3 linked regions of the Homo sapiens genome follow. The protein of the gene in region 3 purifies or fractionates together with the protein of the main gene of each other region. This does not show direct contact. Each region holds a gene or a part of one and is shown on either strand. Other genes may lie near its edges.

Region 1 (8,031 bases), on a different chromosome or scaffold from region 3:
TGGAAAAATGCACAGGCCAAGGTGTTAGAGATGGGGTGGGGCTTGGAAACACTGAACCTTTAGGGTTTTTTTGTTTTTTTTTGAGATGGAGTCTCTCTGTTGCCCAGGCGGGAGTGCAGTGGCCTGATCTCAGCTCACTGCAAGCTCTGCCTCCCAGGTTCACACCATTCTCCTGCCTCAGCCTCCCAAGTAGCTGGGACTACAGGCGCCCGCTACCATGCTCGGCTAAATTTTTTGTATTTTTAGTAGAGACAGGGTTTCACCATGTTGGCCAGGATGGTCTTGATCTCCTGACCTTGTGATGCACCTGTCTCGGCCTCCCAAAGTGCTGGGATTACAGGCGTGAGCCACTGTGCCCGACCACCTTTAGGGTTTTTACGTGGGCATGATTGACTGAATAATTGGCCATTGGTGATTGAACTCAATCTCCAATCCTCCCCGCAGGTCGGAGGCGGTCAAAGAGTGTGTGTTTTTGCGTGAGATAGGCCCACCCTCTCTCTAATAACATGGTTGCTCCCTCTGGAAACCAGCCCCATTCTGAAGCTGTCTAGGGACTTTCAGCCACCAGTCGTCTCAGGAACCTACGAAAAGACACTCTTATCTCTCTGGAGATCCTGGTGGTCCCAGGAACTCTTGGGTTGGGAACTTGGGGATGTTGACCAAAGAGTATAAAGTTTGGGCCAGGTATGGTGGTCACGCCTGTCATCCCAGCACTTTGGGAGGCCGAGGTGGGTGGATTACTTGAGGCTAGGAGTTTGAGACCAGCCTGGCCAACATGATGAAACACCGTCTCTACTAAAAGTACAAAAATTTGCCAGGCGTGGTGGTACATATCTGTAATCTCAACTACTGGGGAGGCTGAGGCAGGATAATCACTTGAACCTGGGAGGCAGAGGTTGCAGTGAGCTGAGATCGCGCCACTGCACTCCAGCCTGGGCAACTGGGTGACAGAGAGAGACTCCGTCTCAAAAAAAAAAAAAAGAAACAAAACAAAGAGTACGAAGTTTCAGTTAAACAAGAGAAAGAAGCTATAGTGATCTATTGCTCAGAATGGTGACTATAAGAAATAATACATTGCATATTTCAGAATTGCTAAAAGAGTAGGTTTTAAATGCTTTCATCTGGCCGGGCGCGGTGGCTCACGCCTGTAATCCCAGCACTTTGGGAGGCTGAGGCGGGCGGATCACGAGGTCAGGAGATCGAGACCATCCTGGCTAACACGGTGAAACCCCGTCTCTACTAAAAATACAAAAAAAATTAGCCGGGCATGGTAGCGGGCGCCTGTAGTCCCAGCTACCCGGGAGGCTGAGGCAGGAGAATGGCGTGAACCCGGGAGGCGGAGCTTGCAGTGAGCCAAGACAGCGCCACTGCAGTCCAGCCTGGGCGAAAGAGCGAGACTCCGTCTCAAAAAAAAAAAAAAAGTTTTCATCCAAAAAAGTATGTTAGCTGATGGATTTGTTCATTAGTGTGAATTAATCATTCCACATTGTAAATAGATATCAAAACAGTGCACTGTAGCCCATAAATATATACAATTATTTGTCAATTAAATTTTTGAAAAAAGCTGTGAGCAGTGTCTCCTGCCTGTAATCCCAGCACTTCGGGAGGCCAAGGTGGGAGGAATGCTTGAGCTCAGGGGTTCAAGACCAGCCTGGACAACATGGCAAAACCCCATCTCTACTAAAAATACAAAAATTAGCCGGGCGTGGTGGTGCACGTCGGGAATCCCAGCTACTCGGGAGGCTGAGGCATGAGAATCACTTGAACCTGGGAGGCAGAGGCTGCAGTGAGCCGAGATTGTGCCACTGCACTCCAGCCTGGGCGACAGAGTAAGATTGTCTCAAACAAACAAACAAACAAACAAACAAAACCCCCCAAATCAGCTGGGTGTGGTAGTGCATCTGTAGCCTGTAGTTCCTCTGACAGTTTTGTCTTTTCTGGAATTTCACAGAAATGAAATCACTACGGTATGTGGTCTTTTTCCACATAGCTAATACTTTTGAGGTTCCTCCAGATCGTGCCTGCGTCAGCCCTACTCACCTTTTTGTTGGTGAGTAGTGCTCCATTGTATGACTATGTTGCAATTTGTTTGTCCACTCTCCTGTTGATGGACATTTTGATTGTTTTTTTTTGTTTCTGGCTTTTATGAATAAAGCTGCTATGAGTGTTCATGTATAAGTCTTGGTGTGGGCATATGTTTTAATTTCTCTTGGCTAATATCTAGCAGTGGGATTGCTGTATGGTAAATGTATATTTAAACATTTATAGGAAACTGGGGGCACGAAGACTTTCAGTAATACTGGTCGAATCAATGGTGCCCAGGAATTTGCATTTTTGAGACAGGGTCTCTGTTGCGCAGGTTGGAGTGCACAGGCATGATCATTGCTCACTGTAACCTTGAACTCATGGGCTCAAGCAATCCTCCTCCCAGTAGTTGGGAGTACAGGCATGTGCCACCGTGCCCAGCTAATTTTTTCATTTATAATTTTTTGTAGAGATTGGGGTCTCCTTATGTTGCACAGGCTGGTCTTGAATTCCTGGCCTCAAAAAATCCCCCCCACTGCCTTGGCCTCCCAAAGTGCTAGGATTACTGGTGTGAGCCACGGTGCCAGGCCATGTGCAGTATTTTTTTGGATTTTTTTTGAGATGGAGTCTTGCTCTGTTGCCGAGGCTGGAGTGCAATGGCGAGATCTCGGCTCACTGCAACCTCTGCCTCCTGGGTTCAAGCAATTCTCCTGCCTTAGCCAGGAGAGTAGCTGGGATTACAGGCACCTGTGACCATGCCCGGCTAATTTTTGTATTTTTAGTAGAGATGGGGTTTTGCCAAGTTGGTCAGGCTGGTCCTGAACTCCTGACCTCAGGTGATCCACCCACATCTGCCTCCCAAAGTGCTGAGATTACAGGCATGAGCCACCGCGCCTGGCCTGGGCCATGTGCATTTCTAACAAGCTTCCCAGGTACAGCCAATTGTCTGTGCTAGGTGATCTGGACTTCGAGGTCCTTCACCTCTGAAGGACTGCCTTCCTTCCTCCTTCTGTCTGTGGAGTTCCAGGTTTTACTCCCAAACCTCAGCCCCAGAGGAGACCCAGCATCCAGATTCTGAGAGGTTGATCCCACCATACAGGAACCCCAGTCTTGCTCAGGAGTGAGTCAGCCCAACATGCACCCTCATTAGCTTAGCATCATGAGGGTTGGTAATTATTATGGTAAATACATGATTGTAACCTTGCCGTTCTGCTTCCTGCATCTTCTAATTTATATGAGCCTGAGGTCTCCCTCTTGCCCTTCTTGTGATAATGCAAGGAGGAAGTGTTCAGCTGTTCATTCATACACACTCATTGAGTCTTTTCTGTGCTAGGCAATGTCTAGGTGTTGAAGAAACACTGTGAAAGGGATAAAATCTCTGTTTTCAAGGTACTGGGGAAAGAACAACATATGTATAAACAAACAAGATAATCTCAGGGAGTATTAGGTTCCATGAATAAAATACAACAGGGTAATGGATAATGGAACTTTATTTTTATTTTCATTTTTGAGAGGGAGTCTCACTCTGTCTGGAGTGCAGAGGGGTGATCTCGGCTGACTGCAACCTCCGCCTCCCGGGTTCAAGTGATTCTCCTGCCTCAGCTTCCCCAGTAGCTGGGACTACAGGTGTGCACTACCACGCCCGGCTAATTTTTGTAGTTTTAGTAGAGATGGGGTTTCACTATGTTGGCCAGGCTGGTCTCAAACTCCTGACTTCAGTGATCCGCCCGCCTCAGCCTCCTGAAGTGCTGGGATTACAGGCATGAGCCACTGTGCCCAGCTCATAATGGAACCGTAGATAGGCACAAGTCCTCTCTGAGTGGAATATTTGAAGCCAGAGGGAGTCAGCTATACGAATATCCAGAGCTATTCTGTAGCTCTGGATTGGCCACAAGAGGGTATTGAGCACTGGAATTCTGGCTAGTTTGTACTGAGATGCGCAGTAAATGTAAAATATACCCGAATTTCAAAAACTTACTATAAAAAAGTTAACATATTGTATTAGTAATTTTTTCTTTTGGCGACATGTTGAGATGATCATATTTTGAACATATTGGATTAAATATATTAAAATGAAGTTCATTTTCTTCTTTTTCGTTTAAAAAAAATGTACTAGCTAGTAAATGTGGATTGCCTATGTGGCTGGCATTGTGTTTCTATTGGTCTGAGGAGAAGGGTCCTAGGTAGAGACAACGGCAAAGGTACAGTTCCTGGGGCAGAAACTGAAGGATGCTGAGGCAGAGTCGGCCGGGGAAAAAGTGGCTGAAATGGGAAGGGACCAGATCCAGTGGGACCTTGGTGGCAGCTCTGTAAGGAGGTGGGTTTTAACTGAAGTACGGTGGGGACGCCGTTTTAAGCAGGGAAGGGCAGGGTCTGAATTAACAGGCCCCTGTGGCTGCGAAGTGGGGAACGGACTGTGGGTGAGTGGGCCAGACGGACGGCCAATCGCACCTTTCGCTTGGATGGAAGGCAGGGTGGTTGTAGGTGGGAAGAATCCTGGGTTCCCATGCTGTCTGAACCAGAGTCATTTGTGGCCCTGCCCTCCCCTGGGACTCAATTTCCCCACCTATAAAATAAGCCCCAGTGTCCGCGAACCCTGGAGGGGCCCGCACCACTGCAGGAGCGGCCGCCGGCGCCAGGGGGCGCCTCCTCGATAACTCGGCGCTCGGCTGGCCAGGCACCGGCGCGTCGGCCGCTCGATTGGTCGGGTCGGGGCCGGCCTGAGCGCCGCGGGCCTGCGCCATTGAGGAGCGGCGGGGAGGAAACGCCGCGCAGCGCCGGGCTGGGGCGGGCGGCCCGGGACACCGACAGGTAGGGGCCGAGCGGCTCCGTGCCGGGCGGGGCCAGGGTCGGGAACTGCAGGGCCGGCGCGGACCCGCGGGCCGCCGCTAGGGCTCCGCCTGGACATGGGGGCCCGGGCCCACCCTGGGGAGAGCGATGCTAGGAGCCTGGGGGCCCCGTCGTCCGGCCTCGGTCTGAGCCCCTCGGGGTAACCCTGGGCGTCTGCTCCCCCCGGGCCCCAAGCCCGCCACCTCCGGGGACCCCTGCGTCCGAGTCCCCGCGAGCTCCCCAAGCACAGGCTCGGGGCTGGCTGAACCTCTGGGAACCCCGACGTCCGTGTCCTGGGGAGCCCGAGCCCCCGCTGGACCCCGGCACACTTTCCGGGGTCCCAGCAGCCTGGCGCCCTGGAATTGGGGGGTGTCAGTCCGCGCCTGTCCGCCTGAGCCTTGGTCTCAATGCAGGACCCCAGTGTGCGAGCCCCCCACATTACGCCGAAGAGTGGGGTGTCAGTTCTCTAGAATGCCTTAGCCACCTCCCTTAATCAGCCACCCGAGGTCACACTCTCGCGTGGAGACATCAGGCCTAAAACCTCTCTTTACCTTTTGCCCCCCAGGGTCACGCCCTGGCCCAGCCACTCCTCCTAGGTGTGGGATGCCAGACATCAGGCCTAAAACCTCTCTTTACCTTTTACCCCCCAGGGTCACGCCCTGGCCCAGCCACTCCTCCTAGGTATGGGATCCCGGCGCCGTTCCCTCCAGGTTTTACTTGGGTGGTGGGGTCTCTGTCCCCTGGAGGGGGCTGAGGGTTCCGAGAGCTGGGGGCGGGAGGGTTGTGGGAGCGTCGCCTTCCGGGCAGTGCCGTTCCTGTGGGGCCACCGGTCGCACAGCCGTCCCCGCCCCGGTTTTGGAGCTCCCTGGCGCCGGCAGCGTTCAGCCCTGGCCGCCTCGGGGAGGGACGCCCAGGTCCGGTTGCCAGTCCTTCCTATTCCCGGTCTGGCCGCTCCTCAGGGGAGGGGCCTGGCTCAAGGTCATGCCCGGCTGTCTGCCCGCCCGTGGGCTCAGCACTGATCCCTACTGTCACCCGCCCCACTGGGTAGGGGAGCCCAGGTGGGGGTTAGTGCCAGTGCCAGGCAGCTGCCTAGAAGTCCTGATGGACCGGAGTGTAAACACTTTGGGACTCTGGCCAGTCTGGCGGCCCTTGCTGACACTGAATTCCTTCAGGGAATCCTTGAAGTGGCCTCAAGCACGGTCTAGATGCTTAGCAGAGCAAATAATGGGTGCTTTCTGGTTTGGGCCTCAATGTTACTGACCAGGTTGCCTCACAATGCTAATCACTCATGCTTTTAAAATCTGTGCTTTGCATTCTTTTCCGTTTAGGGCAAGTAGGGTAGGGCCTGAACTTGTTTACAAACTGACAGTTGTTTCCCTTGATTTGGAGATAATTGGTAATTGGCACTCAGAGTTGGCATTTAGGGCCGAAATTAGTGGCAATAACTACAAAAATAAAGAGTACTCTGACCTTGGCTTCTTGCTCAAATTTGTTTGGAGTCCCCATAGTAAGATTAGTCAGTTTCACATTTGGTTTTCACAAATTTACTCCTTTCAAGTTATAATAGTGGCCGGGCACGGTGGCTCACGCCTGTAATCCCAGCACTTTGGGAGGCCAAAGTGGGCAGATCGCTTAAGGTCAGGATTTCAGACCAGCCTGGCCAACATGATGAAACCCTGTCTCTACCAAAAATACAAAACTTAGCCGGGGATGGTGGCAGGTGCCTGTAATCCCAGCTACTCAGGAGGCAGAGGTAGGAGAATCGCTTGAACCCAGGAGATGGCGGTTGCAGTGAGCCGAGATCCGAGATCCCGTCACTGCACTCCAGCCTGGGCGAGGGAGCAACACTCTGTCTCCAGAAAAAAAAGTTACAATAGAGAAATGTTTCTTTTATTCAGACTGTTGAGCATTTTTTTTAAAAAATTGTTCTTATAACATCTTCTTTAAACAAATGTAGCTAATAATTAGTTTTATGTAACTCTACCCTTAAAAAATATCTTTATATTCCATTTGCAGAAAAAAAAATCTTTGGAAAGAAATTGGTCAAATATTTTACCAAATGCTGTTTTTTTCTTTTTGCTGTCACTGTTGACCAATAAAAGTTAATCTTCTCTGGAAGTACAAGATATTGTTGACAAACAAAAGCCAGTTTTTCCAGGAGATTGAATTCATTCTTGTGGAGGCCTTGTGCTTCAGGTAGTTGTTGGATGGCAGCCTCTCAGTTGGGATAGGTGTATCTTCTGGCACTAAGATGAATCACTAGAGGTGGGGCAGCGTGCTTGGAGAGGATCCTGAAAGTAGGCTGGCTCCAGTGGGATGCGTGCCATGGCAAGTCTGTAGTGCCTGGCAGGGTGGCTGATGACTGACATGGTGGATCAGAACAAGATTTGAGGCTCACAGTTTCCACTGGGATCTTCTAGTTGAGCAATCTCAGAACCCAGTTAAACTTTTGTGTCTCAGTTTCCCTCATGTTGACTTTTTGTAATACTAAAATTAGTCTTTTTTTTTTTTTTTTTTTTTTTTTGGTAATACTGGTAAACACCAGTTATTATAACAGGCAGTAGTACCTACAAAATCTAAATACCGTGGCTGGAGCCAGAGGATTTCTGGAGTTTGGGGTTTGTAATAATCGACTAAGATTGTTCATTGTATCAGCGTCATCTGGTGCCCAGGTACCAGTAATGCAGTTCCAGGACATTTAAGAACAGTGATAAAGCACTGTCGCCTCTCTCCCATGTATATTATTTTATAAGTGATCCTCATGAACAAATTTGAGACATTTAATTTGGGCGGCCTAAATGAGGATCATTAAAGAATGTGAATTCTCCCCCCACCCCCAACTTTATTCAGGTTTGTTTCATGAGTTTCTTTTTCTTTTTTTTTTTGAGATGGAGTCTCACTCTGTCACCCAGGCTGGAGTGCGGTGGTGTGATCTTGGCTCACTGCAACCTCTGCCTCCCGGGTTCAAGGGATTCTCCTGCCTCAGCCTCCCGAGTAGCTGGGATTACAGGTGCCTGCCACCATGCCTGGCTAAGTTTTGTATTTTTGGTAGAGACAGGGTTTCACCATGTTGGCCAGGCTGGGTTTGGACTCCTGACCTCAGGTGATCCACCTGCCTCGGCCTCCCAAAGTGCTGGGACTCCAGGCGTGAGCCACCACCCCCGGCCTCTTTCATGA
Region 2 (3,182 bases), on a different chromosome or scaffold from region 3:
TCCGCTCCAGTGAGTCTCGATTTCTTCTTAGAGCTGACACACATGGCACAGAACCCACTTTCATCAGTACTCATGGTCATTCTGGCAGTGATTCTCAACCACAAGGGCTTGTCCCCAGAGGACAAATGACCCTGTTATGAGCAATCTTCTATCCTCTAAGAATCTTTGGTTTTTCTCCCCAATAAAAAGATGATTCTTCCAGCTCTGGCAATAATTGCAACTTAATATTAACTAACATTGAGATCTGTAGAGCCCTTTAAGAATTTGATCATTTTAAGTCCAGAGCATTAATTTTTAGTCCTGGCTGTACATTAGAAACACACACAGAACTTCGTTAAAAACAGATATCCAGGCAGCACCAGATCAACATACTTAGAAACTCAAAGCACCAAAAAGATGATAGTGTCCTCCTTCATGCATAATTCAAAATAAAAACAATACTAAATCATAAAACACATGGAAGTAAGTCCACCCTGGATGGCATTTTTCTTACGAAGCTTGGGTACAGTCTTCTTCCTTTTTTTTTTTTTTCCTTTTTTAATGCCCCTGCTTTGCTACAGCCCTCAGCATGAACTTATTCTTCCTACCAGATAATCCAGCACTGGGTGAGCCTTCCAAACTGGTAGTCTGAGCCCCATGTGGAAGAGGGAGGAGAAGAGAAAGACAGCGGTATGGTAGAACATCCCAGACTGCCATGCAGTCTAAGAAAGGTTCTGCAAGGCCACTGAAGAGTCTTCAAGCCAAAGTCGGCTGTCAGAGGAGTTCTGTGTCTCCTAGAATTTCCAGACTAAGTATGTCTTAGTATAACTTCATACTCAGCCAGTCGCTGAGAGAAACCACGGAAGGCATGGGCTCAATGCAAATACAGCAATGGATTTCAAAGTGCAGCTGGGCCCCTAGGTCAACCGCATTCTCTGTAATCCCCCAGTATTGGAGGTCTCTGCCACAGATCTCTAGTGTGATAAAGGGGCTCAGTACCCCTGAGAAAAAGCTTTTCTGACTAGTATCTTGTAAAGTCCTCCATAACTATCAATATAACTTCTCACTATTTTGGGATTGGAAGAGGAAAAGGGAAAGACAAAAAGTAAAGCAAATGTTACTTGAATAACACAAACCCACAAAGTTTTCACACCTGTAAACAATGTGCCAAATGTTTTATTTCTCTCATATGCAAGTAATTACCTCTCAAAGCATTTTTAAAAAACGCATTATTACACTTTACCAATGAATTATTTCTGTCCCTGGAGATTAAATCAAATCAAAATGTTACAAATAGTATCAGTATGATATAATTTCTTAAATATATGGGACATTGTCAACAGCTGTGATTCATATGAAAAATATAATCAGATATCTCAAATTCCTAATTCTGTTTTAAAAACACAAAACACTAGAACAGTTGCTATGAAATTACTGATAATGATCCCTTTAATAAACTGCAATTAACCACTAATATAGAAATTCAATTTAAGCAAGAAGTTTTATATATTATACTTTACAGAAAAAAATAATTTTGAAAAAGTAATGACAAACAGAGATCAAACATTTAGGGCATTAGTTACTGCATTCTCTTTTTAGAATATACATTAAGTAACACTAGTAAAATTTAAAGTTTTATGACCAGGCCTTAAAAAACATGAATGATGATGACAGAACCACTATCACACATAAACAAAAATAGAGCAAACCAAGCGTGTCCACATCTCCATGAATTCAGTGATTTGAAATAAATGTTGTTATGTTAAACATTATGAGCAAATCTAAAGGTTCAACCAAAAAACTTACATATTTTTGAGTATTTTTTAAAGTTTTAATAGTTTATCTCTGATCAAGGATGGAGAAAGGACAAAAAAAAATACTGTCCTGAATTGATTCTCACAGGGCCTGCTCCCTCACAGAACACAGTGTCATTATATATGCCTTATTTATATATAAAACAACCAAAGAATTTTCATTCTTCTTAGTAAGTATTTAAAATACATTCTAGGCGTGCATTAGGAGTAAATGTTAATTTGTGATGCCCTTAAAAGACTTTCAACCTGTAAGAAACAATTTCTGGGAATATAAAAATATTGAATTTTACATATTTCAGAGTCTTGAGAAACTTAAAGTGCAGTATTTTCATGTATCAGCAAATAATAATTGTGTCATATAAGCTCATCTTGAAAGAGGATGTAAATACTTCCAAATTTTTATGAATGCTACATTACAGAGGGCAGAGTGTAGCTATTTTAAGGTTTGATTGTCCAGATTTTTTTATTAGACTGCAAGGAGGAAAAATAAGCACCAAAGTAAAATATGCTTTATTAGGGGGAAAAACAGTGTTTTCATGAAAAGAAAATAGAAAACATGTCATTTCTCCCTTTAGTGACCTTTCTTCATTCAATTACCTGGTTTACCAAGAATGTTAACTCAGTTCAATTATTGAACAAATCACTCTTAAACAAAATGTCAGGATCCAACATTTGTTCATGGGTTAAAGCCTTTTGGCGGGCCGTGGTGGCTCATGCCTGTAATCCCAGCACTTTGGGAGGCTGAGGCATGCGGATCACAAGGTCAGGAGTTCGAGACTAGACTGACCAACATGGTGAAACTCATCTCTACTAAAAATACAAAAAAAAAAAAAATTACCCAGGCGTGGTGGCACACACCTGTAATCCCAGCTACTCAGGAGGCTGAGGCAGTAGAACAGCTTGAACCCGAGAGGCAGAGATTGCAGTGAGCCAAGATCGCACCACTGCATTCCAGCCTGGGCGACAGAGCAAGACTCGGTCTCAAAAAAAAAAAAAACCCCAAAAAAACAAAAATAAAAAAACCTTTCAAAGAACACTAGTCATTCTAAGCTCATTTCTTATTCTTCAGTAAGGCTTTAATTAAATATAAGCCTATTGACCTTTGCTTCACAATTTTAATATTAATGAAAATTTCATTCTGAGTTTGAAGTGACGTTTCTTCAAGGGTCTGACCCATTTGGGTGGTGGCGTAGAAGTGGACTGCTAGCATATACATGGTTACAAAATTAGAGTAAAAACTAAAAGGTGAAAAAACTAGAAAACCCAATACTAGCTATTCCAGAAAACTAAAACTAAAGGATTGCTTGAAAAATTGTCTTTAGCAAGATAAAGCAGAGTGACTTATAGACAAGACCAGTGATTGTTTTTTCTCCCTGTTGGAGCCCCTGA
Region 3 (8,309 bases):
CATTGCTGTTTATTGAAACAAAAGAATCAGAAGAAGATCAGAATGAAGACAATAATAAAAAGCAGAAGCAGAAGTACAAGAAGAATAAAGAAAGAAAGGGAAAGAATTGTAGGAAGGAAAAACTTGTAGAAGTAGAGGGTGGAGAGTGCGAAGAGGTGGAGTATGATGGGCAGTCCGATCTTTTCCATCTGGGCTTTCAGACAATGGGATATGTCATGGAAGGCTTCTTTAAACACCAGAAGAAATTCAGGATAAAGCTCAAAAAGAGCAGGCAATCGATAGGGGTTGAAAATCCACTCAGTAGGCCACGGAAGGACTTCAAGAAGGTTGATCGTTCTGTCGCTGGATGTTGTAGGTGTCCTACGTGAAGGCAATCGACATCTGGATGGCTGTGTGTCTGCTCTTTGTGTTCGCTGCCTTGCTGGAGTATGCTGCCATAAATTTTGTTTCTCGTCAGCATAAAGAATTCATACGACTTCGAAGAAGGCAGAGGCGCCAACGCTTGGTGAGTACAACTAGGGAGCGGCCCACTGCCTTTCTCCTTTGGACTCCTTCCTCCCTACTCCGCCTCCCCACAAACCAAGACCCACCCCAGGGCTGCAAGGACTAGATAGGCAATCAGAAACCCTGGATTCATAAGGGCGCAGTGGCTCACGCCTGTAATCCCAGCACTTTGGGAGGCCGAGGTGGGCGGATCACCTGTGGTCGGGAGTTCGAGACCTGCCTGATCAACATGGAGAAGCCCTGTCTCTACTAAAAATACAAAATTAGCCGGGCGTGGTAGCGCATGCCTGTAATCCCAGCTACTTGTGAGGCTGAGGCAGGAGAATCGCTTGAACCCAGGAGGCGGAGTTTGCGGTGAGCCGAGATTGAGCCATTGCACTCCAGCCTGGTCAACAAGAGCAAAACTCCTTCTCAAAAAAAAAAAAGAAAGAAAGAAAGAAAGAAACCTGGATTCTAGTACTAAGCTGGTCACTGTTAAGCTAAGTACTTTAATCTCTTTGATTACTTTAATCTCTTTGATTACTTTAATCTCTTTGATTTTAATCTCTTTGATTACTTTAATCTCTTTGATTCTGTAAGTCAGTATAGTAGATTGATTAAGGGCATGGGCACACTGCTTGACATAGAATAAGCACTGAAGATATGTTAGCTAGTAGTAGAACCTTACCAAGTTAGCTAATAAGAGATTGCTTTGCCAGGCACGGGGGCTCACGCCTGTAATCCCAGCACTTTGGGAGGCCAAGGCGGGTGGATCACAAGGTTAGGAGTTCGAGACCAGCCTGACCAACATGGTGAAACCCTGTCTCTACTAAAAATACAAAAATTAGCCGGTGTGGTGGTGGGCACCTGTAATCCCAGCTACTCAGGAGGCTGAGGCAGGAGAATCACTTGAAGCTGGCAGTGAGCTGAGATCACACCACTGCACTCCAGCCTGGGCAACAGAGTGAGACTCCATCTCAAAAAATAAGTAAATAAATAAATAAATAAAAAGAGATTGCTTTGAGTAGTAATTGCTCCCCCACAACCGGGAGGAAGGTAGCCCAGGTTGTCATACACTAATTGGTGGTTAAGAATTCAACAATCAGGCATTGGTGTCTTTCTAGGGGAGCATTATAAGAGGACCCCCATAACTAAGTTGGAATTGAGAAACCACCACTTGCCTGTTCTGACTGTTGGATTTCTTCTTCTTGATCTTCATTGGGTGCATTAGAGTTGTTGGGCTTGAGTTGTTGTTCTCCCTCACTCTTTTCTGTTAACCTCATTTCTTCTACAGTAAAGTGATCACCTGGGGAAATATAAAAGAAATCTTGTCGTCATGACAACAGAGGCAGTTTACCCCCAATTGCCCAGACAATAGGTGCTAGGTAAGTTGTCATGACAACAGAGGTGCCTGGGCCAGCCTCACAGAAGCAAGTGTCCAATTATGAGCAAAGCTGAAAGGCTTAACTGAGCTACATACTGGTTGCTTAACCATTAGAGACACAGAGTTCTGGTCTGTCTTCAGCTCTGACTCCATGTTTTCTGTCTAATCTGGAGGCTCTAAAGCCAGAGAGGCAAGAGCATAATGACCTCTGGGGGATGGGAAACAATGCTGTGAACCCACTCTTAAAATCCTGACTCTAGCTTGTCTGGGCCACACTAGCACAAGGAATGTTCTCTCCTCAACACACCACCTCCCACCTCAGCTGCTCCAGGGGCACCCCTACCGTATGTCCGCACTAAAAATATCTCACAAACTACCTCCTTGGTTTCATGTCCCTTGCTAAGGTTCCTTTCTGCTGAGGGCAGGGCTCCTGTCTCATCTAGTGGTTTGAATTTATCAGTCCCTACCCTTTAGTCCTTTAGTTGGTCCCTGGGCAGTACGCCCTCTAGTGGACTAATCCACAACTACATGTCCTCGAGTAGGACTCATTCTTCAAGAAACCTAAAAGCATTTCCTAACCCATACCAAGGGTTAGAAAAATATGTGTATACACCTAGCAGAAGGGCAAGAAAAAAGGACACTCCATTTTCTTTTTTCTTTTTTTTTTTTTTTTTGAGACGGAGTCTCGCTCTGTCGCCCAGGCTGTAGTGCAGTGGCGTGATCTGGGCTCACTGCAAGCTCCGCCTCCCGGGTTCACGCCATTCTCCTGCGTCAGCCTCCTGAGTAGCTGGGACTACAGGCGCCCGCCACCACGCCCGGCTAATTTTCTGTATTTTTAGTAGAGACAGGGTTTCACCGTGTTAGCCAGGATGGTCTCGATATCCTGACCTCGTGATCCGCCCGCCTCGGCCTCGCAAAGTGCTGAGATTACAGGCGTGAGCCCCCGCGCCCGGCCAGGACACTCCATTTTCTAAGCTAACTGTCCCCACCCCCTCTTTAGCTGTGTCGAACAAATCTGCCTGCAGGTACCAAGATCTTATCTTTATAGGAGTTTTGATCTTGGTGCCTTCTCAATGCCTACCTTGGAAAAAAAAAAGCAGACTGCCAACCAATCCAGAGTCCTTTCACCAGCTAAGTTGCCTGTATGGATGTCCCAGCAACAAAAAGGCTGCCATTGTTACTGTAGAGCTATTCCAGGTTGACTCTAGTCCCACCTCCTTTCCTGAACTCCTGCAACCCGCAACTGCCTGCAGCCTGTCCCCTCCTGCTCATATATATAGGCTGATCCTGAGCTCATAATGGAGTCTGTCATGACCAGTGCTCAATTATTACAAAGTTACAACAGCAGCCTGGGCCTTGCTTAGGACTCTGGGGCCTGCCTAAAAGTGGGCTGAGGCTTTTTTTAACGTGAATTATTATTATTATTAACGTGAATAAAACTGAAAATCAAACCCGTGCCATTCGTCATGTCCTTTTTTGAGTCTTCTAAAGTCACTGTTATCCCAGGACCTGTAGCAGGTATTTTGGAGGCACCAAGCAGGCTGAAAAAATTGTTGGAGAGTTCATCCATTTCTAGAACCTCTGTCCGGGCCCTACTGCTCCAGCTAGGGAAAAAGAATTCTTCAGTCTGAGAGGGCAGGGAGAAAATCCATGTGATCTCCAGGGAACCCTTAGCCAAGAGTCAGTTAGGAGTGTTCTAGGAACCAGCCAGCCATTCACATCTTTTCTTCTCAACTCTCTCCTCAACCAACAACTCCATAGCATGGTGGCCCCCTTTCATGTCACTGCCTAAAGTGGTTTACTTTTTACCCATGCAATCCTACACTGTCTTCCCGGCTAGTCCATAAGCTTCCCCAGGAAAGGGAAGCTCTTTTTCATCTCCTCAGCAGGCCTTAGCACCAGGCTCTGGACACAGCAGTCATGTAACCCAGCTCACCAACTTTTACAGGCTGATTGGAGAGGACTGTCTTTCAAACTGGACAGAGCAAAAGCTTTGCCATGATCAATAGAATAACTTGATAACTGGAAGAAATTTCAAAATACTGCCCAGTCCTCTCAAGGGCTTGGTCCCAGAACCCTGCCCACCTCTCTTCATCCTCCAGCACCCTCTTCATTCCCCATTCTCTAATCCCTTTTTTTCTAGCCCCTCTCACTTCAATACAAATCACTCTTTCCCATCTCCACACTTTACCTCCTACACTGTGCATTCCCTCCTTAGCGTGGTTTTGAGATATCTTCCCTCTCTAGCTTCTCAGTCCTTCTCCCCTATAGATAGCCAGGGGAAAAAAAGTTCTATTTTAATAGGCATGTAAGCCACAAAGTGGTATTTAAGGCTCCAATGTTCCTTTCCAGCACACACACACACACACACACACCCCACACACAAACACCCCTCAGAATTTGGCCTAAATAGAGAATACCCAAATGCAGGATGCCCCACCCCTGGATTTCAAGCCATTCATCTTTGCTCCTCCAGCTACAACAGGTGCAGTATGTTAAAGTCACAAAAAGCCAAGACCAGCTTACTCTGTTGGCCATATTTTCTCTCCTGTGTGAAATGGCTTTTTCCAGCCTGGGAAATGTGTCCAAATAACTCCCTTTAGATTTATTATGATTGGAGAAAAGGGAAAATAATTAGATCTATAGAAACAGAAATAGCAGTTGGATCCAACTTTCCCCCTCAGAGCTTTTTTGCCAACATCCTTTGCTTACATCCTCTAGCCAGGGTAGGGCTCAGGGGATCAGGGTGAGTACTGGGCAACAGGGTCATCTGAGGGACCCTGAACTGGAAATCAAAGGAGAAAACCATTTTACTTACTCCCCTCATTTTAAAATTATTGCAAAATATTTTGTTTGCCTCTGGTTCTTCACCTCGAAAATGGGTCCAGCACAACCTCCTTTGTCAGAATAGTGTAAAAATGAATTACAGAGTACATGTGAGGTGAACCAAGGCCTGTCTTTATGATGACAGGTCAGTTTCTAGTCATGTCATTATCAAGGGTTACTAGGACCTACAACACCAACATCTCATACACAAAGCCACTTTTCTTTTTTTTTTTCTTTTTCTTTTTTTTTTTTTGAGATGGAGTCTCGCTCTGTCACCCAGGCTAGAGTGCAATAGCGCAATCTCTGCTCACTGCAACCTCCGCCTCGTGGGTTCAAGCGATTCTCCTGCCTCAGCCTACTGAGTAGCTGGGATTACAGGTGCCCGCCACCACGCCTGACTAATTTTTGTATTTTTAGTAGAGAAGAGGTTTCACCATATTGGTCAGGCTGGTCTCGAACTCCTGACTTCGTGATCCGCCAGCTTCGGCCTCTCAAAGTGTTGGGATTACAGGTGTGAGCCACCGTGCCTGGCAAAGCCACTTTTCAGTGTGTTGCCATAGCTGCAGAGGTCCCACGATAAAGACCCTGTGGTGTCCCTCTAACTGAGAGAGACAGAGTGTTTAAAATCTACTTTATCCACATTTTGTATATATCTATGTCATACCTATACAATATACACATATTTTTTTCTTATAACTTATAATAAATACCTCAGGTAGCCACAGGATGACCAGCTCTTCCTGATTTGCCTTGCACTTCCCCAGTTTCAGCCCTGAAAGACCCAAGTCTTAGGAACACCTTCCGTTCTGGACAAACCGAGATGACAGTTTGCATCGTCCTCCAAGAGGCCATTGCACTTCAGGTGATTTCTTAGATACCTGAAACTTTGACTCTAAAACCATGAATACTTTAAGAAATTACCACCATCTTTGAAGGAAGCATTTCTCAACCCTGTCCTTTAGAAGTAAATAAAATTAGGCTTGTTAGGGTTGCATATAAAATAAGACTAAATAGGCTGTGAATGGGGGCCTGAGGGCCTCATATAAGTAAAGCTCTCTCTATTGACACTCAGAGGTTTTGGTTCTCTCTCTCTCTCTCTCTCTCTCTCTCTCGCTCTCTCTTGCTCTCTTTCTCTCTCAACTTTATCTTTCTGTCCCTACTTCCTGGCTCCTAGCTGCGTTTAGCTACTAAAGGTTGTCAGCTAACTATTGGAAAATGGACTTTTGGCAGTCTGCCGCATTACTTAGTGCTTATATAAAATTTACCCCTCACTGGGCATGTGTTTATCCTAATTTGGATAACTCATTGGGTTATTTAAAACTTTTGGAATTTTCAGTTTTAAGTTGAGATAAATTTTAAAAGATACGATTCAAAAGGGGAATGAATTCTGAAGCTTTTGAAAGTCATTAAAGTCAAGTTTACTAAGACTGAATATCTCAACTTCACTATCTAATAGTTTTGTTGTTTTGTTTATTACCAGTCAGAGATAACTTGACATTGAGATGTCCTCTCACAGTGGCCGGCACTTCACTGGATTTTAGATAACTCTAAATGATGTTTTGCATTTTACATGGGTAGCTTAGAGCCTATCTGCCATGGAATCATGACATACACTATATATAGCACGTAGAGCTGCTTAGCATACATCTATCTCATGAGTAGTGTTGTGACCATAAAAAGCATGCAATGGGCCTGTGTACCCAAGGCACCTTGTCTGCATAACATTCCCTATGAGATATTGATGGGTGGTCTGTTCTCTATCCCTCTGCCTTTGAGCTTTGACCTCAAATTCTGCCGTTTCTTCCTTGTAATTCCAGGAGGAAGATATCATCCAAGAAAGTCGTTTCTATTTCCGTGGCTATGGCTTGGGCCACTGCCTGCAGGCAAGAGATGGAGGTCCAATGGAAGGTTCTGGCATTTATAGTCCCCAACCTCCAGCCCCTCTTCTAAGGGAAGGAGAAACCACGCGGAAACTCTACGTGGACTGAGCCAAGAGAATTGACACCATCTCCCGGGCTGTCTTCCCTTTCACTTTCCTCATCTTCAATATCTTCTACTGGGTTGTCTATAAAGTGCTATGGTCAGAAGATATCCACCAGGCTCTGTGAATAGGGTGGGAGCTATAGAGTCCTGCTGCTGGCCTCCTGCTTCCTCCTGGGTGGGCTTTCTCCCTCAGTTAGACTCCATTAGGGGTTTGGACAGTTCCTTCCTGATCTCCCACTCAGAACTTCAACTACCAGTCCCAAAGCTATGTGGGCCTATATTGCATGGTGCCAATGGTGGCTGTACTTATAAAGATGGCTTATCTACCCTAGTCCATATTTTCTCCATACTTTCCCATTTCTCATGAGACTAAGGTTTGGCCACATTCCTGGGGCCAGGATGACCTTCTGCCCTTGCTGGAGCCTCCCTGTTTTCCAATACTCCAGTGGAGAGTATTCAGAACACTGCTGCTAGATTCTGGCATTTGTCATCTTAATCTGCACCACTTCTCCCCCTGCCACCTCCCACCCAGAGCCTGGCCATTACTCTGTCCTCTGTCCCTCCTGCTGCAGATTCAAATGGTGAGTTTCTCCTATCCACAAGTGCTGCCCTGTGGGGCCTAGTCAGGTTTCCTTGAAGTGAGAGGAAGGCAAAGCCGCAAGTTCCCCACCTCTCGAGAGGGTTGGAACAGTCATAGGCTGCACTGGGCTAGCGACTATATGGCCCAACAGAGAGGTGTTCAAGTCTCTTGGGAAGCCCCACACTTTGTCTTCATCCCTTTTCCTATTGCGCTTGTCTGCTCTTTCCTGTTCACTGAGATACTCCTCTTGTCTGTCTCTTAGTTTTGAGGAGAGCGTTCTGAGCTGACCAGGGTAGCTGGTTCAGAAATTACTGTCAGAATTGGGGCAGAGACTTTGGGTTCTCAAAAAGACTAACCTTCCAGATCCACCTGAACATTCTGGTCTCAGAAATATTCGTTCCGTTCCCTAATTAACTAGCATGATGGCAGGATCTGTTGGACAGCTGGGGAGTGTAAAAAAAGAAAAATACTTGTTCTTTAAGAAACTTACTTTATGATGCTAGAAAACTTTTGAGAAAAGTGAGATCCAAGGTAGTGGAACCCAGGAGGAGTAGAATAGAGAAACTATTCTCAGAGTGTCTTTTGTTGGCTGGGCTTTCATTTGTTTCTTCTTTCTCACCAAAGTCTATTTTCCAGGGCCCTTCATTTCCAACCTGGTCTTTCACCTCCTTTTGGTGTGCAAATAAAGGTGCCGCTGCAACCTTGTTAAGGATAGAATGGGCTTCAGGTTTGCTGGGGAGGAACTAGGCACGTAGAAGACCCCTATACTAGATCAACATTGATTTGACCAACATCAGGGTAGAAGTTGTAGAAGTTAAAGAGCCATAATTCAGAGTTGTTTCTTCACCCTTCTTGCTCCACAAGGAGAAGCAGTGAGTAGGTGTAGCAGTCAGTTGAAGCTACCAGAAACGTCAGAATAGAGAGAGTTGGTGTGGAAGAGCCCACTTCAGGCCTGACATACCACTGGGACATGGGGAAGCATGTGCCTGGCACACTGAGACCTTTGAAGTGACCAACTGTGAGTAACTGAAACAGGAGAGATTAAAGTGTGGG

Evidence for each region.
Region 1: the proteins of TMEM31 (region 3) and VPS13D purify together in Homo sapiens (co-immunoprecipitation; 2 studies listed by BioGRID and IntAct, with this or other methods). This does not show direct contact.
Region 2: the proteins of TMEM31 (region 3) and VPS13C purify together in Homo sapiens (co-immunoprecipitation; 2 studies listed by BioGRID and IntAct, with this or other methods). This does not show direct contact.

What each region holds. Positions count from the first base shown.
Region 1 is NC_000001.11:12,225,285-12,233,315, forward strand, and holds the start of VPS13D (intermembrane lipid transfer protein VPS13D), read left to right. Parts: upstream 1-4,745; 5' UTR 4,746-4,836; intron 4,837-8,031. UniProt on the Homo sapiens protein: Mediates the transfer of lipids between membranes at organelle contact sites. Functions in promoting mitochondrial clearance by mitochondrial autophagy (mitophagy), also possibly by positively regulating mitochondrial fission.
Region 2 is NC_000015.10:61,851,266-61,854,447, forward strand, and holds the end of VPS13C (intermembrane lipid transfer protein VPS13C), read right to left. Parts: 3' UTR 1,124-3,182; downstream 1-1,123. UniProt on the Homo sapiens protein: Mediates the transfer of lipids between membranes at organelle contact sites. Necessary for proper mitochondrial function and maintenance of mitochondrial transmembrane potential.
Region 3 is NC_000023.11:103,705,716-103,714,024, reverse strand, and holds the start of TMEM31 (transmembrane protein 31), read right to left. Parts: upstream 3,117-8,309; 5' UTR 2,949-3,116; intron 1,790-2,948; 5' UTR 1,767-1,789; coding exon 1,665-1,766; intron 506-1,664; exon of another isoform or gene 432-505; coding exon 27-431; 3' UTR 1-26.